4 linked regions of the Homo sapiens genome follow. The protein of the gene in region 3 purifies or fractionates together with the protein of the main gene of each other region. This does not show direct contact. Each region holds a gene or a part of one and is shown on either strand. Other genes may lie near its edges.

Region 1 (7,871 bases), on a different chromosome or scaffold from region 3:
TTTGTACTGTACATCTCCCAAGCCCCATCAAATGAATAGGTTATCAATAATCTACCTTCAGGAATGTATTGACTTTACATCTTATATCAGACAAAATGTCTGTAGTACAACTTGAAAATTATCCTAAACATCAGAACAAAAGAGCAGGGCCTCTGCAAGCTCCCTTTACCTCAATGACAGCAAGATAGCAGTCTTTGGTGTCTGTACACAGGTCAAAGATGTTCCGTTTCACATCAATGGTTGCTGGAAAATAGAATGTGAGAAGATTGGGATTGGACTATTGCTGTGACCCTAAAACCTGCTTTTCCTCTAAAGGAATTCAGGATGATTGCTCAAAAGTATTTCCATAACTTCTCTGTTTTTCAATAAAAAATTACAGGCCTCCAGAAAATGAAGGATCTTAAATAAGGAACACCAAAACACGACAAAATGTTCAATGTCTGTCCCTTTCTGCTTACCTATAGGTTTGTAGTCAGTTGCATTAAATGTTCGGAAGGATGACCCAAAGGGGCTTTTCATCCTCTCTTCCATTAAGTCATCTTCATCATCTGCCTGCAACATAGCTTGAGGGGGAGTGGGGGAGGAAACACTATTAGGAATCACAAACATCCCCTCTTCACAAGTGCAGAAAATGTTAATGGCCAATCAAAACAATCTACTTGCATATAGGTTTACATACAAATTCCCTTGTACAGAAATCTACTCTGCATCTAGTTAGCTCCTCTCAGAGCATCTTCCTTGCATATCCCACCTATTGTGACAAATAATATCCTCAGCCTCTCATCTACCTCCAAGAAGTGTTACTGTACTTACAAGGCTTATAACAACACAAGAGGACAAATGCAAAAGCTCTTAAGTTCATAATGATACACTGGAAAATACTGCATGAAATTTCTTTCCATACAAGATTTCCTTGTTATCTTCAAAGTAAGCTGCCTTTCACCCTAAACCAACATTATTTTCATATCTTTTGTCACCATTCATACTATCAATTTTTTATCTTTTATGTTACAACTCTCAAATGCTTTCCAATTCACAAGTGAGAGATGGTTCCAAAAAGAAGTATCAAATTAAGTGAAGGGGTAGAGCAAAAGGAAAGAGAATAATGAAGGATAAGGTTTATTACCTCCATACATCACTGTTCCCGTGTGATTGAACACCACGCGACACTGATCCAGAGCGGGAACAGTATGCAAAAGATGAAAAGTTCGAAGGTCCCACTAGGAGGGGAATGGTCAAGGAAAACTATTTTACACAAAACTTATCTAATCTCATGGGAGGAAATTCTAAAATATCACTTTTTTTCCTCCTGCCAGGTATTGATACTTTAAAAGTCAATGAGATCAAGGTAAAACAAATACATGTAGAATGCATATTATTGAATGATGTCTCTGAAAATATCCTAGGGTATCCTCATATACAGGAATGCTTTATGAGCTCTTTTCCTCCCAACAGTAGTACTTCATTTTCCTCTTATGTGGCAACTGATTTTTTACAGAGCAAAAGTAAAATCCTTCTGAAGACAGATAAAAGCTAATTCAATTCTTGGAGAACTGGGAGGTAGGAAACTGGTCACTCTTACCAAATACATAGAAAACATGCTAGTGAAAGTTGTCAGTAATTACTAACATTGGCAACAGTGCTTTGGAGATTTCACTAACATTTCAAACCAAAGGACAGGCACCATATTATTACCAGTGTGGACACTTTAACCAGGTATTGGTATAAAGATAGAACAAATTATTTCTGCACCACAAACCAGACAACAAATGGAAGGTAAGACATGAGTATAAAGGATACAATCTCAGTATTAATGATCACCTCCAGTCCATTTGGATGGAAAACACCACTGATGTTCATATTGAACTTGTCAAACTTGTGGATGGCCTGTGCAGAGCGGACATCCCAGAGGACGCCATCATTTAAGACAAGATCATCTGTAGGATTAAAGGTGGCACAGTTCCTCTTGTAGTTGTTGGCAAGATCTGGGTTAAACAGAGTCAACAGCTTGTTGCCAGTCTGAATATCATAAATCTTTAGAGAAGAAGGGATGGGAAGAGAAAAATCAGACCAATCCATCCACTGACAAATTAAAGAGAAAATGTGCAAAGCAGTTTCTAAAATTAACACACAAATTCTCCACATGGATCAATGATTACCACAGAATACTGCCTCCCAAAGTGCTGGGATTACAGGCGTGAGCCACCGCACCCGGCCAGGCACCTCTTTTTCTCGGGGTTCCATTCTGCCTTACTGGCCATTATATTTGATTTCCTTCCCAAGTTCCTCATTTGGCAACTCCTAAACACATGCCAGGGTTCTATACCCACAACTCTTCTCTAGTCCCCTTGATGATCTCATATAAGTTCATGGCTGTAAATACTATCAGCTGGGGACAGTGACTCATGCCTGCAATGCCAACATTTTGGGACACCAAGAAAAGTGGATCACTTGAGCCCAGGAGTTCGAGACCAGCCTGGGCAACGTTGGGGAAATGCCGTCTCTACAAAAATACAAAAAAATTAGCCAGGTGTGATGGTGCTCGCCTGTAGTCCCAGCTACTCAGGAGGCTGAGGTAAGAGGATTGCTTGAGTCCAGGCAGTCAAGGCTGTGGTGAGCTGTGATCGTGCCACTGCACTGCAGCCTGGGTGACAGAACAAGACCCTGTCTCAAAAATAAATAAATAAATAAATACTGTCAATATGTGGACAAGTCCCATATTTATATTTCCCAACCCACACCTCTCTCTTGAACTCCCAATTTTTTGTTGTTTTTATTTTCAGAGACAGGGTCTCACTTGGTTACTCAGGCTGGAGTACAGTGACATAATCATAGCTCACAGCAGCCTCCAACTCATGGGCTCAAGCAACCCTCCCGTCTCAGCTTCCTGAGTAGCTGGGACTATAGGTCCCAAGCCCACCAAGCTCAGCCAATTTTGTTTATTTTTTGTAGAGATGGGGGGAGTCTCTCTATGTTGCCCAGGCTGGTCTCGAACTCCTGGCCTCCCACCTCAGCCTCCCAAAGTGCTGGGATTACAGGCAGAAGCCACTAAGTCTGGCCAGCTCCCAACTTTTGTATTCAATCCCCATTCTCTACTTGAATGTCTAAGAGAATCTCAAATTTCATGTGTCCAAAATCCCAGGGCCAAGGTCCTCCATTTCTCATAGCCTCTACCATGCCTACCCAGGCCCAAACCCACAGCTCCTCTCATGTGTCAGGTGGTACAACACCCTCTGACCTGGAAGGCTGCTCTTGCTTCTCTCACAAAAACCAGAGTCACACTTCAGGAACTTTACATCCACTCATGTATCCTCTACTCACCCACCAGTGTCTTCATCTCACTCAAAAAAAAAGCTAAAGGCCCTAACTACCACCTACAAGATGCTACCAGATACAGGCCCCTCACTGACCTCAGCTCTCCTCCCACCTCCCAAGCAAGGGCTTTTCCCTTGCCATTTCCTGTGCCTTACGCTGTTCCTCCAGGTATCTTCCTGAATCTCGCGTTTCCTTCAAGGCTCTGCTTAAACATTACCCCATCAGTGATGCTGTCTACCCTAGATAAAAGAGAAGTCCCCCACACCACCACCAAGCATTTCCTACCTCTTACCCTGCTTTCATTTTCTCTGAAACACTTACCACCTAAATTTACCGTATATTTGCTTCTTTATTGTCTCCCCAATGAGGGTCCATAAAGGCAGGGGTTTCATTTCTAATCTAAAACTTACTAAGAATTCAAAAATATCTGTGGTGCTAATGACATCTTTCTCAATGTCACATTTAGCCCTTATACATTTTTCCCATACAGCTCAGAACTATATTATCATACTTTTAGATTCTAACTAGAAGGAATATCACTGATTTCTAGTTGCCCAAAGGACTTAGGTCCTCACATTCTATCAAGAAGATTTCAGTATGAACAAATGGGTATGATCAGCTTGAAAACAGTGGTTCTTAAGTACTTACGTGGGCAATGTCTCCTTTTGTGCCGATGACCCGATCCTGGGAGTGCTTACTGAACTCAACATAGTGATCTTCTGTGAAGGAATGCCTATGGACAAACAACAGGAGCACTGAAGTGACAGATCTTCAGGACATATTCCTGCAACCAACTGAAACACAGGTGACCCCCAGCCTCTTGCACAATCACACTCACCTAAAGATCCTGGACTCCCAAAGAGGAAACAATCATACACTTAGATTACAAAGAAAATTCCTTCTATCACCTTAACCAAGCAGATACAAAATAATGAATGGGAATTCCTTAGAGAAATGACAAACAGGGCACATGTGCCTTTGAAACACGCAGCAAAGGGGCCAGGCATGGTAGCTCACTCCTACAATCCCAGCACTTTGAGAGGCTGAGGCAGGTGGATTGTCTAAGCTCAGGAGTTCGAGACCACCCTGGGCAACATGTCGAAACCCTATCTCTATCAAAAATGCAAAAAATTAGCCAGGCGTGGTGGCATATGCCTGTGGTCCCAGCTACTCAGCAGGCTGAGATGAGAGGATCACTTGAGCCTGGGAGGTGGAGGTTGCAGTAGGTCATGTTTGTGCCACCGCACTCCAACCTAAGTGACAGAATGAGACCCCGTCTAAAGAAGGAAAGAAAAGAAAAGGCCAGGTGCGGTGGCTCAGGCCTGTAATCCCAGCACTTTGGGAGGCCAAGGCCAGCGGATCACAAGGTCAGGAGATCAACACCATCCTGGCTAACACAGTGAAACGCTGTCTCTACTAAAAATATAAAATATTAGCCAGGTGTGGTGGCGGGCGCCTCTAGTCCCAGCTGCTCGGGAGGCTAAGGCAGGAGAACGGTGTGAACCCGGGAGGCGGAGCTTGCAGTAGGCTGAGATCGCGCCACTGCACTCCAGCCTGGGCGACAGAACGAGACTCTGTCTCACAAAAAATAAAAAAAAGAAAAAAAAAAGGAAAGGAAAGGAAAGGAGAGGAGAAGAGAGGAGAGAGAAAAGGAGGGGAGGTGAGGGGGGAGGGGAGGGGAGAGGAGAGGAGAGGAGACACAGCAAAGACTGCAATGTCCTATGTGAACATGGGAAAATACATAGATTCTGGGTCGGGGTCTGCTGCATAATGAGAATGTATATACCTCATAAAAGTATCTAGGAATTAAGAAAGATAAAGTCTTATTAAACATGAGTCTTAGATGAGGAAGAGAGAAGTTAACAATAACCGACAGCATCCTCTTTCCCCAAAAGGCTTCCAGTCTAAGAACCAAATGAAGGGGGGTATAAACTAGGTAAATAAAGCACAGACTAGGTTCCAAAAGCAGATACATACTTCATATCAAATACTGACTTCATTCCCCAAAGTGCAGACAAAGGCTGGCTCCAAGTAGCAGATGTCAGCAGCAAGGACCCATCCTAAAAGAAAAAGGCGCAAGGTGGGTAACCACGTATTTACATACATGCAGATGTCACTACCTGCCATTAGCATTTTTAAAGATTTGCATAAAAATGTTGTTGAATTAAAGAGACAATTTTATAATCCCCAGAAACCAAGAAATGGTCAGAAGCCACTAGGATTTGAATACATACACCTATAGTGTCCTATAAAATAACCAAACTTAAGAGAATATTAAATCCTACTGAACTAGCCACAAAAATAGAATAGATAAAAGGGAGGGGGGAAAATGAGAAGATGTCAAAGATGGTTCCTTTCTTCCTACTAACTTTGCCATATTCCTCAGTCTCCATCTGAAATATGAATTAACCTCAACTAGACTTTCCAGTTGAGGACTCATTTAAAAGAGAGAGCTCAATAAAGGGTAAGCCTCCTTTACTCTAGTTCACCAATTCATCTTGGAAGAATGACTGAGAGCATCCTAGGAAGGAACCCTTACCCTGGAAGGTTCAAGATGTGTGATGGCTGAGTTGTGACAGTTATAGCTGGCCTCCTCCTGTCCACTAAACACATTATAGAGCTTCAGCTGCCCTGTGCAGGTGCCAAGCATCAGGAACCGCTCCCGTGCTGAGAATGCACAGCAGGTGAAGCCACTCTCATCTTCATTGGCTTCCCGGAACACTGAAATAGGACGGAATCTAAGCAAAAAAAAGAGAGAATCACAGGCAAAGAATGTGCAGGGACTCAGAAAAAGCAAACTGCTAGGATAGAAGAAAAAGCACAGAACATTAATGTTTCAAATGGCTTCTTCCAAAATCACAGTGACCTTCAGTGCTTTTTATTTTAAATAAGAAAAAGATTTCCACTTACAAATTTAAATAACAAAAATTCCCATGTTTAGGCCAGACACAGTGGCTCATGCCTATAATCCTAGCACTTTGGGAGGCCGAAGGGGGGGTATCAATTGAGGTCAGGAATTCAAGACCAGCCTGGCCAACATGGTAAAACCCCATCTCTACTAAAAATGCAAAAATTAGCTAGATATGGTGGTGCCTGCCTGTAATCCCAGCTACTCAGGAGGCTGAGGCAGGAGAATCACTCGAACCTAGGAGGCAGAGGTTGCAGTGAGCCAAGATAGCACCACTGTACTCCAGCCTGGGCGATAGAGAGACTCCGTCTCCAAAAAAAAAAAAAATTCCCATGTTTAAAACCTGTGATCCCGTAACCTTTATGTAAGATTTGTCAAGAATCAGAACAGGAAGCAACTTGCACCAGCACAAGTTTGGGAGCCTCCTTATGGACAGTAGTAATGAGGGGGTGTGGGTTCTAGAAAACATACTAGTTGAGATGAGAACACAAACGATTATATCAATATACTGCCAACAATCACACAAGGAACCCATGGTTGACAAAAGGTGGTACAATTACATTGTTCAAGTATTACACAAAGTAACAATCAGTGGTATTTCAGGACAACTATGCTGATACTGCCCAGTTTGATTTAAATAAAAGAATCATTCCAATTCCCAGGGAGTAAGAAGGGGCCTCTTCTTACCTGCTAAAGATAAGGTGCCTATCAAAGCATCCGCCATCCACCCCTCCATACTTTGGAAATGATGCCCTGCGGTTTAGCCTTGACGTAAAGTTTATTGGCGCTTGCCGCCTCTGTTTTGGCTCAGGACATTGGTGAGGAGTAAAGAGGGAGAAAGGTGGGCAGGTGGCAACTGGATTCTTGCAGCGAGCATGTTGTTCTCTAAGATACTCTGTGATTATACTGTCCAGCGTAGGTGGGGAAGGAAGATGTCTGTCCAGCTGTTTTTTTATGGCTGGGCTTTGGCTGTAGGCACCATGGTCCGACTTCTGCCGCAACACTCTGATTTTCCTGCCATTGCAGGGTGATGGCCTCTCTCTGATAAAACTGATTCTACCAATCAAAGGGGAGTTGCCTGCATAAGATGGGCCGGGCAGAGCTAGCGGACCCTGGGGGGGCCGTGGCTGAGGATGAGCAGTAGGGGCAGAAGGCGCAGAGGCACCCACAGCAGCATGGCTGCCCAGACGAGTTGCAATGCCATTAGCGATACGAGGGGTTCGGGGTAGAGAGACAGGAGAAGCAGCAGCAGTGACTGGGGTAAAGGCAGAAGAATGGGAGGCAGCAGTCATGGGCAGGTCAGCCTCTTTTGTCAGCACGGTTGCTGTTTCTCCAAGCCCTTTAGAAATAAGATGGTTTCGTATCAACAAAAGCAGCTCTTTCTCAGGGAAGGAGATCCTTGACTGGGCAACAACATCTGCTTTCTGCAGTCGTGCTAGGGAAACATCAGTGCCAATGAGAAGTGGTTTTCCTGACACCCGTTCAATGAGTTCAGCAGCATACTTGCAGAACTTGACATGGTCACTGCGCTTGTCCTGCAGCACAGGCTCCTTCATCAGCTGCTGGATCTGGCAGCTGCTGAAAAGGGGCAGTTTACTGATGATCTGCCGGACAGTGCTACTGCGAGACAGGCCCACTAGGGCTTTGC
Region 2 (7,871 bases), on a different chromosome or scaffold from region 3:
CATATACATTTTGTCCTTTTAATACAGTATTTGTATATCCCACTGTGTGACTACACAAATACACATTTAACCAGATGAATTGTTTCCTGTTACTGTACACAATGCTGCAATGAACATCTTTATGTGCTTGTGAATGAATTTCTAGGACAATACCACATTAAAGACTTACATTACCTTTAATTTGTTGATCATGGCTTCTTCAGAGTCCATAGACATGGATAACCCATGAATTAAACGTTTTGCCAGCATTCTTGCGTAGAACTACATTTAAAAATATTTTAAAAGATTACTTCCTTTCTAATGATTTAGCATTCAGAAATAAAGTTGACCAAAATACAAATGAAACTTTTCTGTTCACAACATACCTTTTGAAAGACGTCCTTGTCATCAATGTATTTGAACACTGTGATGAAGCTCGTGAGCCTGTCTTCCACTTCATTCTCTGTCATCCCTTTCGCTGACTTCTTCAGTAAGTTGTCACAGTACTTAGCAAGCTCATGTAGAAATTGATAATAAATCTTACAAAGGGTGCTTCTGTATATATCACGCCTCAAAGGAGGCAAAGTGGTGATACAAGGTAAGATCAGCGGACAGAATTTTTGCTGTTTTTTTTAGAGACCGGGTCTTGCTCTGTTGCCAGGCTGGATTGCAGTGGACAAGATCATAGCTCACTGCAGCCTCAAACTCCTAGGCTCAAAGGATCCTCCTGCCTCAGCCTCCCAAGTAGTTGGGACTACAGGCATGCACAACCACACCAGGCTTCTAAAGCTTTATGTAATAATCATAAATGTAAACTAAATAAAATATACATCATAAGGTAAATTTTTAAAAAGAACAAGTCAAATATCAAATCATCACTTATTGACCAATAAAGCAACTGATATAAGTAATACAAATTTTTAAAAGAACACCTAGGTGAGTTTCGAGTGGTTTTATAATTTTTGACATTGAACAAGTACTTTAAAAAAAAGTTACAAAAATCTTGTAAGCAAGTTTCCTTCAAAGGTTACCCAAACTTTATCATCAGATTTCCTTTAGATTTCAGATGTAACAGAATCTACATGAAAAGTATTGCAAATTATTTCAAAGTAGATATACATTAAAACCCAAACTTTGTAAAATGGTTATTCTTTAAGACACATAGTATATTGCATTCCTTACATAAATGCCAAACTATATACAATGTAGATAATTTTCCTTCTATTTTTCTGAAAAATGCTACAAAAACCAAATTAATTTGATATTCTGAGTTCTCATTTTCTAATACTGACTTTTCATAAGATTACTTTTCAGCAACCACCAAACTTACCAGTTCAGGTGCTTTGCAAACAGACTTAGGTTCTCTGTAATTTACAACTGACGTAAGGGCCTGAATAAAAAAACACGCCATAATTAACCACCAGCCATAGGGAAAAAGTACAGCTAGTTCAATATAAGCCATAATCTGTACATCCAAAAATTACCCCGCCACATAAAACACAGCATTGCCGGTAGTTTGTTAATATTTTCATGCCTAACATGGTAGACTCCTCTGACTTTATTCTCTAATTACAAAATATCTATATATCCTGTTGCTATTCCAAGATATTCTGTAACTCATTATCGAAATTTGAACAGATAAAATAACGTTACTTAAAAAAAAACTTACAATCTTGTAAGCAGCTTTCCTTTAACGTATGCAAAAGTTCATGTAAAACATATCTATTCTCTTTTCAAATATTATTCAATATAGCCTAAGTATTATGGCCAAAGAAAAAAAATCAGTACTAAAAATTGCAAAATTATGCATGTCTATCCAGAACATATCAGATTAAAAATTCCCCTTATATAGCATAATCACGGGACATTCTACAAGCATTCAATTTAACTATTCAGTTAATAATTTAAAAATTATATTATTTCTATTTTGAATTTCATATCAAAATTACTTAATCTCCATGTCTACATCAGAAACCTCATACTAGAATTCTGATCTTGAAACTGCCTAAAGAATGATAGAGTTTTATGTACATATATAGTATATATGTATTTAAAACTTACCTTATCCAACGCACTCATAAAATGCTGATCACCATTCAAAACAGTGTTGATAAGCTGAACAAATTTACCATGCACTTCCAAAACTGACTCCACAAATAGTGTTGGCATCTAAAAATGAAATATAAGTACAAAACCACATTTTAAGAGGTTCAAGGATATCCAAACTATGAGGTTTATTAGACTTATTAGTAAATTTTTCCTCAAGGAAATTATGTTTCACACATGCACACTTCTCAGAAAATGGTTTTAGCTAAGACGGTCTTAGAAATTTACAACTTTGGTGTTGAAGGCTGGGCACAGTGGCTCACACCTGTAATCCCAGCACTTCTGGGAGGCTGAGGCGGGCGGATCATGAGGTCAGGAGATCGAGACCATCCTGGCCAACACGGTGAAACCCCGTCTCTACTAAAAATACAAAAAAATTAGCCAGACGTGGTGGCGTCCACCTGTAATCCCAGCTACACGGGAGGCTGAGGCAGGGGAACTGCTGGAACCAGGGAGGTGGAGGTTGCAGTGAGCAGAGATCGCACCACTGCACTCCAGCTTGGGCGACAGAGTGAGACTCCGTCTCAGAAAAACAACAACAACAACAAAAAAAAAAAAAAAGGAAGAAAGAAAATAGCTTGTCATTCAACACAACAAGCTGTCATAGACTGTCTAGTACCTGTCAGAAGAACCCACCAAAAGCATACTTTTCTACTGTGTTGGAATAACTTATCTTAAGGATAACAAGACCTGAACTACCAGGTCTATCACTTTCATAGAGGCTTAAATAAGCAAAGACTGCCTGCAAAGTCACTAAAGGCTGAGAGAAAGGAGAGTTAAAAAGCCAATAATCCTGAGAACAGAGACCCCTTGAACTCGGCAAGACAATCCCTCACATCTCAGAGAGAAGAAATACCTAATAGTACAAAAGTGAGTTTTCCCTCTTAATGGAGATAACCATGAAGAAGTTACTACCTAAGACTTAACTAAGTCAGTTGGATTTGAGTCTACCACAAATGTATTCACTTATGTTTCCATCTCCCAGCCTTGACACAAAATTCGATGCTTCTATGCCCAATGTCATTGGACATGGAATCTATAAACGTAATAATGTAAACTAGTAAGTTTGACAAATAATAGAGTAATAAACCTGAATACTATAAACTAATAGTTCTACAAAAAATAGAAAACTGTGGTAAAGGGAATTTGAAGAAATAAAAAAATAGAAAACTTACACATTATTGTGGCATAACATAAAAACTAAAAATTATTACTTGCCAAAAACCAATCTGCAGCTAAGGTAACAGCCTCTAAAAAGTGCTCCTGAACAGTGACGTCTATACACAGATACTATCTTATAGATGAAGGGCAAACAGCTCTACTTAAGAAGAGACAGTAACATTTGAAGTTATTTCTCTCTTGCTCATCAAACATTACCAGTAATAACAAGATTTGGTGATGGGAAAGACAAACTGTTACAGTACAAACTGTTACAGTCATGTGATTGGCAAAGTATTCGAGAAAGATGAGTATTAGGGATATGAGGGTTATTGTTTTGGGTATTTGGGGCAGCAAGCATATACTTACAGAAGATTATTTTAATCTAAATTTGCTTCCTGGACAACCAAATTCAGAGGATATGGAAAGGAGGCAAATTGCAAGTCGTCTATATTACCACTGATTAATACTACTACCATGACAACAAACTACGTTATCAATGCCAATTACACAAAAACACAGTTATTTAAAAATGGCGAGCTTATTTTCCTGTGGAAAGTTAACAACTGTTCAATGGACACCCTCCGTATGGCTAAGCAGCAGCCTATCAATAGCTTTCTAATAATCTGATAATTCCAAAATGAGTCCAACAAATTCTAGGTTTAAAACATTTGAATAAAGACATTTCTTTCGTTGGCATGGTAAGACTTTTTCTTTCATCTTTCAAAACAATAAAGTCAAAGGAAAGGCTCCACGCTGGATCTGATTAGGAGGAAAACATTGCAGTTTCCCACACAACTCACGTTTTCCTGAGTAAGGTTGCTGGTTGCTCGAAGGCCCTCATCATGGATGTGGTTTTGCAGCTCCTGAATCATATGAGGTAAACCAGTGGACACAGCACGGAGTAAGACGTACATATTTGCCATGTCTGAGAGGAAAAAGACATCTGAGGGTTAACTCCCAAATATTTTCATTTATTAGGTAATATATGGATCCAAGTGCAGGAGTACAATATACGGATCCAAGTGCAGAGCACCCAGAGAAAAGTCCCCCATGCCCACCTCCCAGCCACCCAAGCCCCTCTCCCCACAGGAAAGGGATGTGGTTATTTAACATCTTCCCAAAGATATTTTGTGCAAATTCAAGTGAATACATATATTCTTCCCTTTGCCCCTTTTAATACAGTGTACTGTATTTTGTATATTATTTGTAGCTTCAGAACACATTTTAACTTAGTGGTCTTTTCCTATCAGTACACAAAGCATTTCTATGTATTTTACAGCTGCACAGTACTCCATTATGTGGATATAATTTCTTAACAACTGATGGAAATTTAGGTGGTTTCCAGTCTCTTGATATTGCAATGTTGCAATCAATAATCTTATACATGAGCAAGAATATATGCAATATAAGTTCCCAAAAGTGAGGTTACTGTGTCAAAGTTTAATCTTGTAGACAGATCCTTCTAACCACAGCTGCCAACAGCAGAGAGTTCCTTTGCCAACAATGTGTTGCCAAATGTTTTGATCTCTAACACTGGGAGGTGAATAATGATCTCTCAGTGTAGTAGGTTTAATTTTAAACGTTTCATTAAAGCATCATACATATACAGAAAAGTATACAAACCATAAGTGTATATCTTACTGAATTATCACAAGTGAACACACAACACACCCATGTAATCACACGCAGGATAAGAAACAGGCATTACCTACACCCAGGAGTCCCCTTCATGCCTCCTTCCAATCACACACTCTTGCTCCTCTGCAAAGGTAACCACTGCTGTGACTTCTAAATCACAGATGAGTTTGAACTACGTATAAAAATGGGATCACACAATTCTTTCGTGTCTGGCTTCTTGTGTTCAACATGTGTATAAGGATCATCTATGTTGTTGTGCATGGCTTTAATTTGTTCATTTCCACTCCTCTATAATATTCCATTGTATGAATATACTGTACTATTCTACAGTAACTGGACATTTGAGCTGTTCCAGTTTATGGAGCTATTACAAACACTACTATGAACATTCCTGTATGTCTTTTTGTATATATGTCCAGGCATTGGCAGTGGGGAGGTAAAGCTGGGGGGTGGTTATATGTTTAGGAGAACTGCTGGATCATAAAATATGCATAATATATCCCACTTAGCGGTCAGTGCCAGTTTCCCAAAGTAGTTGCATCAATTTATACTCTCACTTCAGTGTTCAACAAGTTCCTGCTACTTCACACTTCTTTCTATGTTTATTGGCCATCTGGGTATCTTCTATTCTGCAGTGCCTGTTTTTTGAGCATTTTATATTTTGGATATAAATCTTTAGTATTGCAGGTACATTACCCTATAACTGTCTTCTGATGATCCAGTGGTTTTAATGGCTTTTTTTGAGACAGGGTCTTACTCTGTCACCCAGGCTGGAGTGCAGTGGCAGGATCTCGGCTCACTGCAACCACCACCTCCCAGATTCAAGTGATCCTCCCACCTCAGCCTCCCAAGTAGATGGGACCACAGGTGCACACCACCCCGCCTGGCTAATGCTTGTATTTTTTTGCAGAGATGGGATACTGTCATGTTGCCCAGGCTGGTCTTGTACTCCTGAGCTCAAGCAATCTTCCTCCCTCTTAATGGCCTTTTAATAATCCAAAGTTTTTCATTTTAATGTAGTTCACTGGATCAATCGTTCCTTTGTGGTTAGGGCTTTTTGTGTCCTATTTAAAATATCTTTCCCTGTCTCAAGGTTATGAAGATATTCTTCTATATTATCTTCTAGAAGTGTTATTTTTTTACCTTGTACATTTAGAGAAAAAACTCAATAGTGAATTGATTTTGTATATGGTATCTTGAGGTAGTGATCAAATTTCATTTTCTTCTGAAATGGATATCCAATTGACTGAGCAATGCGTGTTGAAAAGACCATCTTTTACCTGCCGCTCTGCAGCGCCACCTTGGTCTTACATCAAGTGGCCACATATGCTTGGGTTGTTTCTAGGATCTCTTATTTTATTAGGATATCTGTCTGTCCTTGTACCAATGCCTCACTGTCTTAATTACTATAGGTTTTACAATAAGTCTTGCTGGTCATTAAAGTCTTTCCATCATACTCTTCAAGACAGTGACTTTCGGAATTAAAATGAAATTATTGGGTTTTGACTACATTGCCCTGGATCTATGAAATTAATGTTGCTGTAAAAAACACGGGGCCAAGGGTGGTGGCTCGTGTCTATAATCCCAGCACTTTGGGAGGCCAAGGCAGGTGGATCACGAGCTCAGGAGTTCGAGACCAGCCGGCCAACATAGTGAAACCTCGTCTCTACTAAAAATACAAAAATTAGCCAGGTGTGGGGGCGGATGCCTGTAGTCCCAGCTACTCAGGAGGCTGAGGCAGGAGAATCGCTTGAACCCAGGAGGCAGAGGTTATAGTGAACAGAGATCGCGCCACTGCATTATAGCCTGGGCCACAGAGCGGGACTCCGTCTCAAAAAACAAAAACAAAAAGCCTGATTAATGGCCGGGCGCGGTGACTCACACCTGTAATCCCAGCACTTCGGGAGGCCGGGGCAAGCAGATTATCTGAGGTCAGGAGCTCAAGACCAGGAGGCCAACATGGTGACACCCCGTCTCTACTAAAAATACAAAAATTAGCTGGATGTGATGGCACACACCTGCAATCCCAGCTACTTGGGAGGCTGAGGCAGAATTGCTTGAACCTGGGAGGCAGGGGTTGCAATGAGCCAAGATCATGCCATTGCACTCCAGCCTGGGCGACGGAGCGAGACTCCATCTCAAAAAAATTAATTAATTAAATAAAATATACATATTTATTATCTTTCCTGCCTATAAAAGTAATGCATGTTTTTTGTTTTTTTAAAAATCAGAGAGGCCGGGCGCAGTGGCTCACGCCTGTAATCCCAGCACTTTGGGAGGCTGAGGCGGGCGGACCACAAGGTCAGGAGTCCGAGACCAGCCTGACCAACATGGTGAAACCCTGTCTCTACTAAAAGTACAAAAAAATTAGCCAGGTGTGGTGATGAGCGCCTGTAATCCCAGCTACTCAGGAGTCTGAGGCAGGAGAATCACTTGAATCTGGGAGGCGGAGGTTGCAGCGAGCCAAGAGCACGCCGCTGCACTCCAGCCTGGGCGACAGAGTGAGACTCTGTCTCAAAAAAAAAAAAAAAAAAAAAAAAATCAGATATAGCTGATTTTTTATATTATATAAATTATTACATTTATTACATAATATTTGTATTTCCTTTTTATAGTCTTTGCCTTTATTCCTACTGTTTATCAGGAATTCTAAATGCATTAAGGAAATTAGCTCTTGTAATATATAAAAATGTATAAACACAATTTCCCACTTTTTCTTCTGATTTTAGAACACTCTGAAAACACTTTCCTAAAATAGTCTTTCAAAATAAAGTATTAATAATCTGTAAAAGGTTATTTAAAATATTTTAAAGACTATTACTAAAATAGGCATTAAATCAAGGGTGACTAGAGGATGATATAAAAGGTGGATTTATAATTTAATTTCTACTCATGTTTGGTGTCACTTACCATTTTTTTTCTCTTGTCGAATTATATTATGACATTCTGCATGTAAAAACTGTAAGTGGTCTGCTACCATTCGTTGT
Region 3 (7,871 bases):
AATACCACCTGCTATAAAATCTGTAAGTATCCTTTAAACCTATTTTACTGCTTTAATGTAATGACATTCCCTTAAATGGCAACCTTTTATAAGCTTATGTTTTCTATCTGACGTCCTAGTAATAGTCATCAGATTGGTATTAAGGATTCGAAATAAATCTTCAGAGTCCTCTAATCAGAAATTTGAATTTTGCTGGGATGGTGTAGAATTTCTGCTCAGTTCCTACTGATTAGATTTCTTGAGACGCTTTTATGTGCAGCTTCCCTAGTTAAACAGCTGAGCCAGTTTAGATGAAGGAAGCTCCTGGAGGTGGCGGAGGCAGCTGAGGTGATTTTCAGCTGGTTTATGTTGCTTCCTATAATGGTACTTATTTTGAAACTGCCATCGTTTACAAGAATACTCTAAGAATGATTGACAGCAATAAGATTATTTTTGTTAATTAGGATTTTAAATTTCTTATTTTGGTTGGGAGATTAGAAGAAATAGCCTGTGAAAAGGTTCTTCCAAAGTGGAATGAAGTAAAATTTTAATGTCAAATGATTCCATGTGTCTAACATGAGTGTCAAGTGAAATTTTTAACATTCTCGGGATATTACCAAGAATTCATCTAAACTTTTGTTTATTGATATTCATCAAGAGATCGGATTAGTATTTTTACTCTTTTTTTTTCCCTCATACATTCTGTTCTGTTAAGTAAGATTGGAATATTCCTCAGCTTCTTTGGCTAAATAAAGAAGTACTATAAATCATGCACATAAGTTTCAATGGCGTTAGTGGAAACTCAATCCTTAGAGAGGCTACAATGTATGACATCTTAGATTGAGAGTCTCTATTGTTAACCATTTTGCTATTACTTTTGACCTAAATATATATTCATAATATATCTATGAAATACAAATACAACATCTTTAAAAACAATCCTTAAGCTAATTAGTCCCCAGGCTTAATTCTGAAATGTTTTTTGACTACTTTCTCATGCCTTAATTTGCTATTGTAATAAATTTATATCAGCCCTACAGATAAATTTTACCTTACTGCTCATAGTGTTTAAAAACCTTTTGATAGTGATTGGGCTGAAAAAGTAATTGCATCTTTTAAAATAAATGTTGAATTAGGTTTTAATGATGTAGCTAACAAGTTTTTATATCATTTCTGGTATTTTGTTTTAAGATACAATCATTGGTGCATTTACAGAGTGAATACCCTCTAAGGCAATAATATTTATTGCAGGCAAATTCTGAACTTGGGGGAATTTGGTCAGTAGGACAAAGAATCTGGCAGAGAGATTTCCCTGGGATCTATACAACCATCAACGCTCACCAGTGGTCTGAGACGGTCCAGCCAATTATGGAAGCACTTAGAGGTAGTGTTTCTTTGTGGTTAAAAATGAAATTAGATGAGACTTAGTCCCTAAGTGCTGCAGTGTTGAAGTAATAAATCAGTGGTGTGTGTTTAAGTAGATATTTTTGATAGGTGAAAAGAGCAGTTTTCAGAATTTTTTAGATTTGCCCTAATCATGCTTCTTCATTTTTTGTTGCTTGAGATTACATTGGCTGCTGTGCTTTTGTTGTTTCTTAATTCTAGACAGAAATTGCTCGTCAGTTTTAAGAGTTTTTTTTGCTATTAAAACGAGATCTTGTAATATTCTAATAAGTTTAAGGTATGGGTTTGTAGAGATGTGAAAATAGAGACTGCTCTTTGAATTTTGTCAGCCTCAGCCTTTGATAGGTGTTGTCTTAAGCTTCTGGATTTTATAATTTATCAGTTTAATACATAGATGCTCAAATGTGTTTTTAATTGCTTTGAAAGATTACAAGCCTGGTGTGACAGAGCACTGATCCCACAATAAAATCTCATTCCCTGCCTCTCTACAGTCTCTCACCCCTAGCATTTGCTTCCAGTCCTCCTGGTTCACTCTTTATAAAATTATATAATCTTGTTTTATGTTGTCATGTACTGTTATTTCTTATTGTTACCCTTACTTCCATAGTTAATATCCACCTTCACTGTATGCCTTCCTGCTGTGGAGGAAGTCAGTGAGCAGGAATTTTTTTAATAACTGTTCATCACTCTGCTAAGGGATATCAGCTTTACAGGGCAGCAGACAGCAGAGATTGTTTCTGAAATGCACATAATTCCCTTGGAATGGTAAAATTCTTAGCAGCATAAAACATAACAATGTAAGTGACAGAACAGGAGGCAGCTACTTTAAATGTGAATGAAATGAGCAGAGTCCTAAGGCAGGCAGATAGATGGGAAGGGAGGAGTGTGGAAGAAGATTGCACAGGTACAGCAGGGGCAGTTTCAGAAAGTAGCACCAGAAACCTCTTCATATAAGCCCTGAGGAATTAGCGTTATAGTGGACTTCCATAGTATCCTCGTGATTCAGCCTTGTGATTGTGGTGGGGCGGTCACAGGCCATGTGCCTTTTCCCAGTGTTTTACAGCGGGTTGATTGGCAGGACTGGGCTTGGGAACTCCTTACTCGTTCAGCAAGCATTCTCTTGTGCACCGTCGGGTCCGTAGTTTTATTCCTTCCCGGAGCCGCCTCTCACTGAATTCCATGAGATTGAGAATTCCTGGCAAGCAGTTCAGTAGACCCAGGAAAGGCTATATAGCGTACCATGCGGGAGTTTAAGCTCTGGGTCCTTGCTTCCGGAGTTCAAATTCTGATTCTGTCACTTACTAGGGTGACTCCTCAGTGTCTTATTTTCCTCATTTGTGAAATGTGATTAGAAATAGTACTTTTTCAGGTTGTAAATGAGTTAATATATAAACATGTACCTTATTCTAAAGCACTACAGTATTCCTGAACATATCCTGAGACTTTTACAAATCTCCAGATTCATGAATGGTACTGTGGTTTCCTTTGTAAAATGCAGCCAGGTCAGGATAGTCTCTTAACAGATTGGTCTTACTGATGAATTTAACATTTTGCTTCTTAACTTATTAGAAACTTATTTTCTAGTTGAGAACAATCACTTTCTTAGATCTCTTTCCATTCTCTTCTAAATTAGGCACAGTCCTATTAGAAAACTGAAAATGACTTAAGAGAAGCTAGTGAAAACTATTTTTGCAGGAAACAAGGGCTGAGGAAGTACTTAGAAACTAGGTAGACAGTAGCCATTCTCATCTGAGGCTTGAAAGGGCAAGGCGAGGGGCCAGTGTTACTGGGGCTGCCCCACAGGATGGATACAGAAGGTCAGCTGGAGCAAGGCAGGGAAAGGGCATAGGAAGTGAATTCCCTGACCTTCCTTCCCAGCCTCTGACCTGATAGAGCCCCAATTCGCCAAAGCAAGAGAGCTCAGGTGCAACAGGCATTGGCGGCCAACCTCCCTGGCACACAGCATGGCTGGGAAAGACAGAAGAGGATTCGAAAGGATGGGAGTGACTAGTTCATCTTCCCTTCTGTCTCCAGCACTGGCAGTGATGGATGAGCAGCACTTGAGTATTTGTTGAACAACTGAGTTTGCATTCTGTTAGCATTTGTTTTCACCAAAAATGTGTTCCATCAACTACTGCCACAGATATTAGGTGCTGGCTCAATTTATTCCACCTTCCAGCGTGTCATTCTAGGGCCTGAGGTTACAGATTTCACAACTTGAGGATCACAGAGTGACTAGTCGGAATGTAGATGTGATTCGTGCCAAGTGGATATTGCAGCTTCTGAGACAGAGAACACTTAGCCTTTATTTTTGCTTTGTCAACTCACTTCTCCCATCACATGTTTTTCTTTCCTTTTCCAGTGATATCTTTTTACTTTTCTCTCCCTTTTATCTCCTCCATTCTTACTGTATTCCTGTTTTATTCCCCACTCTGAAAATATGGCCAGAATATTTGAACTGAAGTAAATGTTTTTGAAATACAGTTGACTTACCAAATGAATATAGTTTTATGGTGTATACTTTTACTTCTCTAAAAAAAAAAAGTATACTTTCCATTGTTGGCTCTTTTCCATTGTTGGCTCAGTTCTTTTCCATTGAATGTATGCAGCCTTAATAGAAAACGTTTCTTGGTATTGCAAAGTCTGTTAGGTTACAGGCTGGTTGAAGGAAGGAAGGAACCTACAATAATAAGTGTAAAGCCACAGAAGGAAGAGCAGACAGTGGCTGAGTGAAAGCTGGAGAGGATGTCGGGCTCAGATGAGGGGAAGGGATGGGAGTGTCGGCAGTTTTTAAGGAATCTGAGAAAACAAAGCCTAAGTGTTGGAGTCGTGCCCCATTTTGGTCCTCGTGATGCCATCAACAAGCATGTATTTGGCATATATTTCACTGGAGATGCTAGGTGTTTGGGGGACTTTGAGGATAAGAGATACCCCTTCCTGTCGAGAAGTTTGGAATATAATTGAAAAGAAGGGGATAGGTGGAACAGTGTCTGCCGTAGTGGAAAGTTGCTTGTTAAAGTAGAAGTGTAAACAATACTGCTGAGTTTAGAGAAGGGCAGAGATCGTAATGAATTATAAACAGACTTAGGAATGGTAGAGAGCAGACAGGAGGGCATTTCAGGCCACGGGATAGCATAAACCAAAAGCCCCAGGGGGAGAAGGTGTAAGACTTGTCTGAGAGCCAGTGGACTCGTTTGGCACAAAGGGTATCTGGGGGAATTGGTGTAGTTTGACAATGTCCCAGGAATGGAGAGAAGATTTTAAATATGTTAGGGTGTTTGTTTTACATATGTACACTGGCCTATTAAATATGGAAAGTAAAATCCAGAATATTTCCTAAGCATGTTGACCACCAGGTGGAGGAGCTCTTGCATTACCAATGAGCAATGCCCAGGGAGAAAGGCCAGCTGGTTTCACAGTGCTCAACTCTACCGTACTCCTGAGTTTATTTAATTGGGTATGGAAGCCTGGGGACAATCCTAAATGCCACTTTCAGGAAAGTTTTCGTTGCTGGTATTGTTTGGCAGTCCCTTCTTAGAGTCATTCTTTCAAGGTGGGAATTTAGGATTTTGAACCTTAATTCAGTCAAGAGTTTGATGCAGACTTGGAAGAATGCTCCAGTTACAAGATTTGTTCTGTAACTCCCAGGTGTGGTCCTGTATTAGAGACGTTTTTGAAAAGGACAGCTGATTACGCAAATCAGTTTTCTGCTCCTTTGATTCCAGCATTTGTAAATGAAATAAGATAAGTAAAATTTATATCCCCATTGCATAAACATACTGCATTTTCTTAGGGTTAGAGCCTTGTGTTTAGTAACCTTTTTCCATCTTTGTAATTTTCATTATCTGAGATTTTTCATCCAAGAGGAAGTGTAAGAAATGTATTTTTTTCCAGCAATATTTGAACCCCCCGTACATACTGGGCATATGTATTTGTATCTATAAGCACAGAAATCTTTGGGTTCATCTGGCCTTGCTTATGAAAACTAGACAAGGACAGTGGTGTGATTTAACAATGTGCTTTGAAAATGCTGCTCCCTGGTTCACTCTCTGCCAACCCACCACTCCCACAATAGATGCAACAAGGAGACGCGCCTTTGCCCTGGTCTCTCAAGCGTATACTTCAATCATCGCCGATGATTTTGCAGCCTTTGTTGGACTTCCTGTAGAAGAGGCTGTGAAAGGTAATTTTGGCTTACTTTTTACTTATAAGGAAAATGGAAAATAGAAGTGTGAATTGTAGGTTCACAGTCTCCTCTGAAACACTTGGAACAGAATATGCTTTTGGAGTCCAGGCTGTGTTTTTTGAGAGGTGATATGAAACAGGTGTTGTGGAACACCCAGCAGGCACCCTGCAGTCAAGCATATTAATAGTTCTATAGCAAGCAAATGTGTGAGTATCCACACAGTTGGTTACAAAAATATGTCTTAATTGGTCTCTTTACTCATATTTGGAAATCCTTATTTCACCCTTATTTGATAAAGGCAGCATCATCCCCACGTCCCTTTTCATTTTCCCTGCCATTTCTGACCCATACCCTAGGCGCTTGCTTGCTCCCCACTCATACCTGCTGGTCTCTCCAAATGTAACTTTGCATTTTCATTTCTCAGCTGATGCCCAGACTAATCCTTCCTGTTGCTCGTTGTTATAGAATACTGTATACACCTGGCCAGGTGCAGTGGCTCACACCTGTAATCCCAGCACTTTGGGAGGCCGAGGCGGGTGGATCATGATGAGGTCAGGAGTTCGAGACCAGCCTGGCCAACATGGTGAAAGCCCGTCTCTACTAAAAATACAAAAAATTAGCCAGGTGTGGTGGCAGGCACCTGTAATCCCAACTACTCAGGAGGCTGAGGCAGGAGAATCGCATGAATCCAGGAGGTGGAGGTTGCAGTGAGCTGAGACTGTGCCACTGCACTCTAGCCTGGGCAACACAGTGAGATTCCATATCAAAAATATATATATATATCGTATACACCTTGTTGCATTGTTTTGCCATGATTGACATTTTTGATTCTCCAGCTAAAATATGAGCACCATCACGCACTACATCCTAAATTTCCAGGGCCTAGCATAGTTGTAGATACATGAAGATAGGTTAATGAAAGTTCTAAGTTATTACTTTTATTTACTCATACAAACATTTATTTCTTTTGGCTCTTAAAATTGGTCCATCATTTATTTTCTATATATAACATACTTCAGAGCTCGTATTCTCAGCTGACCACCTGGATGTGAATGCTGGTACCACCCGTCCCTGATGCTAGTGGCTATGTGACTTAGGACAAATCACTTGAATTTCCCTCAACTTTATTTTCCATACCTGTCAAACGATGGCCCTATATCCCACTTCATAGAGTTGTGGTGATTACATAAAATCATCCCTATAAAAGCACGTAGTCTGGTACCTACAGGTAAACCTTCCATATATGGAAGCTGTTTTTATTATTGCCATCTTTGTTATTACTGATATGATGGTCACAAAAGGCGCCATATCAGTTTTCCTTCTGTTTGTTTTAAATAATACTGATTAGGTTAATACTATAATATATTCTTGACAGAAAACTAACCATCTTTTAATGATTATAGCAACCTAATAGAGTAAAATGAGGCTTTGATACCTGTTTCAGAAATATTTCAATAATAAGTTTCCATGCTCTTTGTAATATACCTTTCTAGTAAAAATGCATATGACGGGTTATACTAAACACATCAGGTCTTCTGTACAACTAATGTCATGGACAAGTTGTGGATTTTGTGGGGTGTTTTATTCTTTCCGGATCTTTATGTGTAATATACTTTTTTAGGCATATTAGAACAAGGATGGCAAGCTGATTCCACCACAAGAATGGTTCTGCCCAGAAAGCCAGGTAGGTGGAGCTTTCACCCATTTACGCAGCACTGGACTCTTCTAAGACTGCTTCAGGTTTTCAGTCTTTGGTTTTTGATAATTGGATGTAAAATTCGGCTATACTAACACAATGGAAATAACTCATTTTAAATAAAGCGTAGTAGACGGGGTAGAAAGGATCACCTAGTTTAAACTCTTAAAAATGTATTTCCTGTATATAAATGATTTTACGTAGGTTTTTCATGGTCCTTACACCTTAGTTTTTACTAAATATTAATCTCCATCCTTTTATGGAGCCATTTGTAACTGAGCTTATCCTTCATATCCAAGCTGTTGTCTGTATTAAAAAAAAATGTTTAAATATTCAACTGCCCCCCTTTTCTGTTTGCACTCAAGTCATACAGGCACTTTTCCTGTGGCTTCCACTTTCACAGAGTTAACTTCTCTAGCCCTCCTTTTAAGGCCTTAATTTCTATGACCTGCCCTCATTGTCTTTATCTGAATTCCCAGCCCCTCAGTCTTCCTGTTGGAAGTGAGCCACACTCATTCCCGCCTGATAGTTTCTCTTCCTCCTGCTGACCAGGAGTGTCTTTTCTGCCAGGTCTTTAGAGCCAAGCTTAATGCCCACTTCCATAAA
Region 4 (6,867 bases), on a different chromosome or scaffold from region 3:
CTCCTAAATCTTCATGTTACATGACCCCCCCACCCTCCAGCCTAGGGCCATGGTCACCGTCACAACCAATGTCTCCCCCGGCACCACACCTATGGCCAGCCCTCACCTGCCCCCACTCCCTGTGCCCTCGATCCTGCCCTCTCCTGGGATATTAGGGCCTTGCTGCAGGACAATGCCCAGTCACCTGCCACTGAAATGCAGCTCTGCTCCTGCGACCTCTTGGAGTCATTCTCAGCCGCTGTTCATCTGTTCTTGAAAGCAGGTCTGCCCTCACGGTACCCGTTTCCTCTGCTCCCACTCTCTTAAAGCTAATGAAGAACTCACTTATCCGAAGGCTTGTTGCTGGTCTTCTTGCTGACTTCTAGTTCTGTTAACATTAAACTCATCAGTACTTTGTCGTACATTTTATCCAAGATGGTTCCAGTTTTTTTTTTTTTTTGAGATGGAGTTTTGCTCTGTCATCCAGGCTGGAGAGCAGTGGCGTGATCTCAGCTCACTGTAAGCTCCGCCTCCCGGGTTCACGCCATTCTCCTGCCTCAGCCTCCCCAGCAACTGGGACTACAGACGCCTGCCGCCACGTTGGGCTTTTTTTTTTGTATTTTCAGTACAGACGGGGTTTCACTGTGTTAGCCAGGATGGTCTCGATCTCCTGACCTCGTGATCCGCCCGCCTCAGACTCCCAAAGTGCTGGGATTACAGGGATGAGCCATGGTGCCCGGCAAGGGTTCCAGTTTTTTTAACCTTGTTTTCCCCCATGTTGACTTTAAAAGATGTCATTTAATGTCAATCCTTTTTTAAAAAAATCGATGTGAATTCACTAGATCACTTAGTGGAAAAACACAAATAAAGGGGCAACGGGTCCAAAAATCTTAGAAAGGAGGACTATATTTTTCTTTTTCTGAGTTCTATTGTACAGCATGGTGAATACAGTCAAAAATTGAGTATTGTACATTTCAAAATTGCTAAGAGTAAATTTCAGATGTTCTCACTACAAAAATGTTAAGTATTTGAGGTGATGGATGTAACTAGCTTGACTAGTCCACAATGTATGCATAATTTATAAGATCACTTTATACTCTATAAATTTATACAATAATAGTCAATTTACAAAAAAAGTATCTTATGATTATGGTTTCATATATATGTATTTTTTTACACGTAAATACTTGACCACTTGGAACTTCCCTTAGTATAAAAAGGAGTCTAATCCAACTTTTCTCTTTTCAAGGTGGCCCAAACTTCTGAGCATGGGTAGTTGTTGCAAAGTTCCAGTTCCTGATCACACACGGCCCCTTTGTGCCACGCCGAGTTCCTGTGTATTTGGCTTATTTGTGGACTTTCTTGTTCCAGGAATCTTTTTAAAGGGCCAGCATCATGCTGTTTCAATTACAATGTTCTAAAAACAGCAGAATTTAAAACAATTTGACTAGTCTGGCATATTTGCTTTTCTGTTTTAACTTTAGAATCCGCTTGTGTTTTAAAGGAAGGTTTTACATCTTAAGATACTGTATAGCAAAATGTGAGAATCAACAGAACTTTCACTTATTCAGGGCCTGTGTTCCTTAGTAATGTTATAATACCTTTCACATAGGTGTTTCCCTATTTGTTACTAGGTATTTTATCTTTTTTGGGGGTTGCTATTGAAAAAATGACTTCTGGTCAGGTGCAGTGTCTCATGCCTGTAATCCCAGCATTTGGGGAGGCTGAGGTAGGAGGTTCGCTTGAGGCCAGGAGTACAAGAACAGCCTTGGCAACATAGCAAGACACTGCCTCTATAAAAAATACAATAAAAATTATCTGGGCGTGGTGATGTACACCTGTAGGCCCAGCTACTCAGGTGGCTGAGAAGAGAGGATCGCTTGAGCCCAGAAGGTAGAGGCTGCCGTGAAACATGATCATGCCACTGCACTCCAGTCCAGGTGACAGTTAAGACCCTGTCTCTAAATAAAAATAAAAAATGACCCTCCATTATAGCCTATATTTATAGGAAAGCTACTGATGTTTTTGTTAATTTTGTGTCTGGTTAACTTGGTGAATTCTTTCTTCAGTCACAGATTTTCATTTGCTCCTTAGATGACCTGGGTATGCAACCATCTAACCTGCAAGTAATTTCACCTTCTCCTTTCCACTTTTACAGCATTTCTGTCTAAGTGCTGTTTCTTTTTCAATGATTTCTTCTATACTATTTGTTTTACCACACTGACCTTTAACAATAAAACATTAAATATTGCTAAATAAGAGAATAGATATAAATAGATTTTCCTTTCTTTTATAAAACAGAAACAGGCAGGCCGGGCATGGTGGCTCACGCCTGTAATCCCAGCACTTTGGGAGGCCAAGGCGGGCAGATCACCTGAGGTTAGGAGTTCAAGACCAGTCTGGCCAACATAGTGAAACCCCGTCTCTACAAAAATACAAATATTAGCTGGGCATGATGGCGGGTGCCTGTAATCCCAGCTACTTGGGAGACTGAGGTGGGAGAACTGCTTGAACCCAGGAGGCGGAGGGTGCAGTGAGCTGAGATTGCACCACTGCACTCCAGCTTGGGCAACAGAGCAAGACTCCACCTCAATTAAAAATAAATAAACTAAAATGGAAACAGGATCTCCCTATGGTGCTCAGGATGGTCTGGAACTCAGGCTCAAACGATCCTCCCACCTTGCCCTCCCATAGCTGGGACTACAGGCGTGAGCCACTGTGCTCAAATGAAACAAAGGCACAGCACAACGAATCGTCCAAGTAAAAAAGACCCACTTGTCACTACCTGGCCCCACTGGTATTTTGTGGTAGAGGTGGCCAGGAAAGAATAATCACTTGAGAGGGGACAGGTGCTCCCTGCTCTGACTTCTGTCTAGTGCACTAGTAGTCAAAGCTGCTAAAGAGTTATGAAGAATGTGTCATTTGCATATCACAAAGTTTTATTAATGTAATTTTAAGGCCAATTAAACTAATTTTATTCAAAGTAAGTCTACATTAAATTACAATATTAACAATCTCTAGACACAACGAACTTATAAGAAAAAAAAAATAGAAATCTGTTTGGTCTTTCTTAGACCACATATCATGGAACTCATAAATGAAAATTTTCAAAGATAGAAATGACAATTAAAGAGTGAGGATTTTAATATGGAAACCCACAAGGTGTCATATTTCAAACCCGCATGTTTCAAAAAGAGACTCTTAATAATTTAGCACAAAATCAAATTATATAAACTTGGTATATTCCAGAAAATATTGCTTTAAACACTTATGCCATGATCAAAATTCCTTTGGTAGCTTTTAATCAAAATGAAACATGCTATTATGTAAAATATAAAGTACTTTTAAATGTTATCTCAAAAGTATCTTTGTCATAGTTACCCTTCTAACATCACTACTGAACTTTCCTTTCACTGTTCAACCTCATGTATATATACACAACACAAAACCAGGTACCAACAAAATCCTTTTAATCTTTCCACAAAATAACCTCTGCTTCACAACATCAAGACTTTAAGTCTCCATAAACTTTTTACAGTTTACAGCAGAGAACAAGGATCGTCCCTGCGCATGACTGTAAAAACCAAACCAAACTTTATTATTGCAATCACACAAATACTGCAATTAAAAAAAATCAAAGAGCAGTTACCCCAATGCAAAAAAACAGGGACTGCCAGACTCAATCTTAGAATGGAAACACAAACACACTAGCCCCAAACCCTAAAACAGAGATTCACAAGGAACTCAGCTGACGAACAGACGCAGCAGGGCGGACACCATGGCCTTGGCACCTCAGGGAGCTCACTTAGAAACCTGACTTACGAAAAATCAGCCATCAAAGTTTACAACTTTTGGAAATACATGAAACAGAGAGGGGCCAGTGGCTAGGGTGCGTCATCCATTCGCCAGCTTTGAACCCTGGCTCTTTCTAATGTTCACCCATGAAGGGCCCTTGTTTTCACTCTAAATGCTGATCATCTGAGCGAGCTGTCTTCAGGGATACCTAAGGAATCTTCAGAGCTAAAAAATGCAGCATCTAGGGTCTTCTTCATTGTGCACTCATGATCACACACGAGAACAAACCAAACTTGCAGCTTTTTGACACAAGAACAAGACCTTTTAAAGGAACTTCTCTTTAGTAACATCTTCTTGTCCAATCTCAAAGTTATTTTGCACAGAGTAACAGAAACAATTTAAATGCCTAAAAGAACTAGAGGAAAAACTGGAGGGAAAAAGATACATCTGCAGGTTGAAGTCTTGAGCCTTGTGAAAGATGACCCAGGAGCCACCTCCCTTCCTTCGCCTTCCAATGTCCACAGCTGGATCAATCAGAGTCCCAGAAATGGCACAGGTGTGCTTCCTGCTCTGAGGGTACATTCTAGTGTTTCATGAAGGGGAACCGTCTGCAGATGCGTCAGGCCACGTAGTGGTACTGATTCGGATTGTCTTTGTCTCTCTCCATATAGTCTCTGTCTATCAGAGATTCAATTCTCTTTTTCAAATCTCCAGGCTAAAAAAGAAGAATAAAACCCCCCTAATTACAATGGCATTAAATTTACAAACATTTACATACAAGGGGTATATGCATGAAGTATGTAACTATACTTATAGAAATATATATACAAATAGATATTTATATGAAAATCATTTATAATTATACACATATTTATGAAATGAACAAAACTTTCTATTTTAAAGACAAAGTTAACGTTATCTCTTGATAAAAAAAGCGTCCATGTGAGTTTATGGTCAGAGTGTGGTTTCCTGAGGGAAACGTGAAACTTGTGAAATGTACATACATCATCTGCCATCAGTAAGGGCACGTATAAGCGAGGCAGATCCGACATCTGCCATCAGCAAGGGCACGTATAAGTGAGGCAGACCCGACATCTGCCATCAGCAAGGGCACGTATAAGCGAGGCAGACCCGACATCTGCCATCAGCAAGGGCACGTATAAGCGAGGCAGACCCGACATCTGCCATCAGCAAGGGCACGTATAAGCGAGGCAGACCCGACATCTGCCATCAGCAAGGGCACGTATAAGCGAGGCAGATCCGACATCTGCCATCAGCAAGGGCACGTATAAGCGAGGCAGATCCGACATCTGCCATCAGCAAGGGCACGTATAAGCGAGGCAGATCCGACATCTGCCATCAGCAAGGGCACGTATAAGCGAGGCAGATCCGACATCTGCCATCAGCAAGGGCACGTATAAGTGAGGCAGACCCGATCACGTGACACATTTTTATTTGAAAGGAAAATCTCAACATGTCTTACTGGGGCAACTTTTATCCTTTGAAAGGATGCTTCTGCCTAAGTAGTGTATTTTATTTTGTTTATTTATTTTGAGATGGGGTCTCATTTTGTCGCCCAGGCTGGAGTGCAGTGGTGCGATCTCAGCTCACTGCAGCCTCCACCTCCTGGACTCAAGCAATCTTCGTGCTTCAGCCTCCCCAGTAGCTGGGATCACAGGCTGCACACCACCATGCCTGGCTAATTTTATTTTTTGTAGAGAAGGGGTCTCACTATGTTGCCCAGGCTGGTCTCAAATTCCTGGGCTCAATCAATCCGCCTGCCTCAGCTCCCAAAGTGCTGGGATCGCTGGCGTGAGGCAGTGCGCCTGGCCTGTAGTTTTATTCTCGTGTATTTACATAGTTATTGCATGCCATGTCCACGTAAGTGAAACTACAATCCCCAGTGTTCCTGCACTAAGAGTAGGTGACTGAGGAGACGAATCCACAGCCACAGCCTGTCTCTGCCCAGAGGGAACAGCCACTCCAGCTCTGCTGTATTAGGAAGAAAATCTGTGTGAGCACTTACGTGCAAGGCTCTCCCTATACAAGGGAGACCCTCTATTTTCCAAACAAACTTCACCTTCTATTCAGTGATAAGCCACACATTTTACAAGATGTGGCTGAGGCTGGGCGCGGTGGCTCACGCCTGTAATCCCAGCACTTTGGGAGGTTGAGGCAGGCGGATCACGAGGTCAGGAGTTTGAGACCAGCCTGACCACACGGTAAAACCCTGTCTCTACTAAAAATACAAAAATTAGCTGGGTGTGGTGGCGCGTGCCTGTAAGCCCAGCTACTCAGGAGGCTGAGGCAGGAGAACTGCTTGAACCCGAGAGGCAGAGGTTACAGTGAGCCGAGATCGTGCCACTGCACTCCATCCTGGGGGACAGCAAGACTCCATCTCAAAGAAAAAAAAAACCCAACTACCCGAGAGCAGAGCGGGCGCCCTGGTCTGCCACACTCTACCCCTGAGAGCAGAGTGGGCGCCCTGGTCTGCCACTCTCTACCCGAGAGCAGAGCAGGTGCCCTGGTCTGCCACACTCCACTCTTGCTCACCTCTGCTTCGCGCTGGGCCTGATTGTTTGCAGTGGCAACAGGAGACTTGCTCCAGCTGGTGGGAGGAAGGGGCAGTGAACCTGATGGTGCTTTTGGAGCTTCCCAGGGCCCTGAGGACGGCACCTCACCTCTGCAGGGAAGGGGGCAAATGTGGGCTGATGGACAGTGGCACTTCCACCAGACTCTTAAGTGTTCGACTATTTAGTGCATCTCAACTTTATTCCCTTGATGGAATGGGAGGCTCAAACTGCACAACATGGAATCTGGGGACTTTCCCTCCAAAGCACGTGTGGCCGGTCCTGTCCCTGAGAGGCCAGGCGTCATCAGAGTTCAGTATTTCCTGGGTTGATAAATACATGTAAAAAACGTTTCATAATACTTTCCCGGCTTATCCTGCATCCCACACGTGGCAGGACAGTAAATCTCAGTTCTGAAAACAACGCGGGTTGACAGGCCTGGGCTGACTTTCATAAGCAACAGCAACAGTAGACTATTACCGTGGTGGAAAACGCGGTGTAGGCTGTAAACGCTGAGTAAGTT

The links.
Region 1: the proteins of COPS8 (region 3) and DCAF1 purify together in Homo sapiens (affinity purification with mass spectrometry; 5 studies listed by BioGRID and IntAct, with this or other methods). This does not show direct contact.
Region 2: the proteins of COPS8 (region 3) and CUL2 purify together in Homo sapiens (affinity purification with mass spectrometry; 5 studies listed by BioGRID and IntAct, with this or other methods). This does not show direct contact.
Region 4: the proteins of COPS8 (region 3) and CUL4A purify together in Homo sapiens (affinity purification with mass spectrometry; 11 studies listed by BioGRID and IntAct, with this or other methods). This does not show direct contact.

Annotation. Positions count from the first base shown.
Region 1 is NC_000003.12:51,412,824-51,420,694, forward strand, and holds part of DCAF1 (DDB1- and CUL4-associated factor 1), read right to left. Parts: coding exon 6,911-7,871; intron 6,054-6,910; coding exon 5,855-6,053; intron 5,376-5,854; coding exon 5,293-5,375; intron 4,049-5,292; coding exon 3,964-4,048; intron 2,035-3,963; coding exon 1,801-2,034; intron 1,221-1,800; coding exon 1,127-1,220; intron 564-1,126; coding exon 459-563; intron 244-458; coding exon 170-243; intron 1-169. UniProt on the Homo sapiens protein: Acts both as a substrate recognition component of E3 ubiquitin-protein ligase complexes and as an atypical serine/threonine-protein kinase, playing key roles in various processes such as cell cycle, telomerase regulation and histone modification.
Region 2 is NC_000010.11:35,031,126-35,038,996, forward strand, and holds part of CUL2 (cullin-2), read right to left. Parts: coding exon 7,795-7,871; intron 4,172-7,794; coding exon 4,047-4,171; intron 2,149-4,046; coding exon 2,041-2,148; intron 1,370-2,040; coding exon 1,310-1,369; intron 495-1,309; coding exon 366-494; intron 262-365; coding exon 175-261; intron 1-174.
Region 3 is NC_000002.12:237,088,632-237,096,502, forward strand, and holds part of COPS8 (COP9 signalosome complex subunit 8), read left to right. Parts: coding exon 1-22; intron 23-1,230; coding exon 1,231-1,363; intron 1,364-5,458; coding exon 5,459-5,566; intron 5,567-7,190; coding exon 7,191-7,253; intron 7,254-7,871. UniProt on the Homo sapiens protein: Component of the COP9 signalosome complex (CSN), a complex involved in various cellular and developmental processes.
Region 4 is NC_000013.11:113,261,109-113,267,975, reverse strand, and holds the end of CUL4A (cullin-4A), read right to left. Parts: intron 5,057-6,867; exon of another isoform or gene 4,977-5,056; intron 4,490-4,976; coding exon 4,394-4,489; 3' UTR 868-4,393; downstream 1-867. UniProt on the Homo sapiens protein: Core component of multiple cullin-RING-based E3 ubiquitin-protein ligase complexes which mediate the ubiquitination of target proteins. As a scaffold protein may contribute to catalysis through positioning of the substrate and the ubiquitin-conjugating enzyme.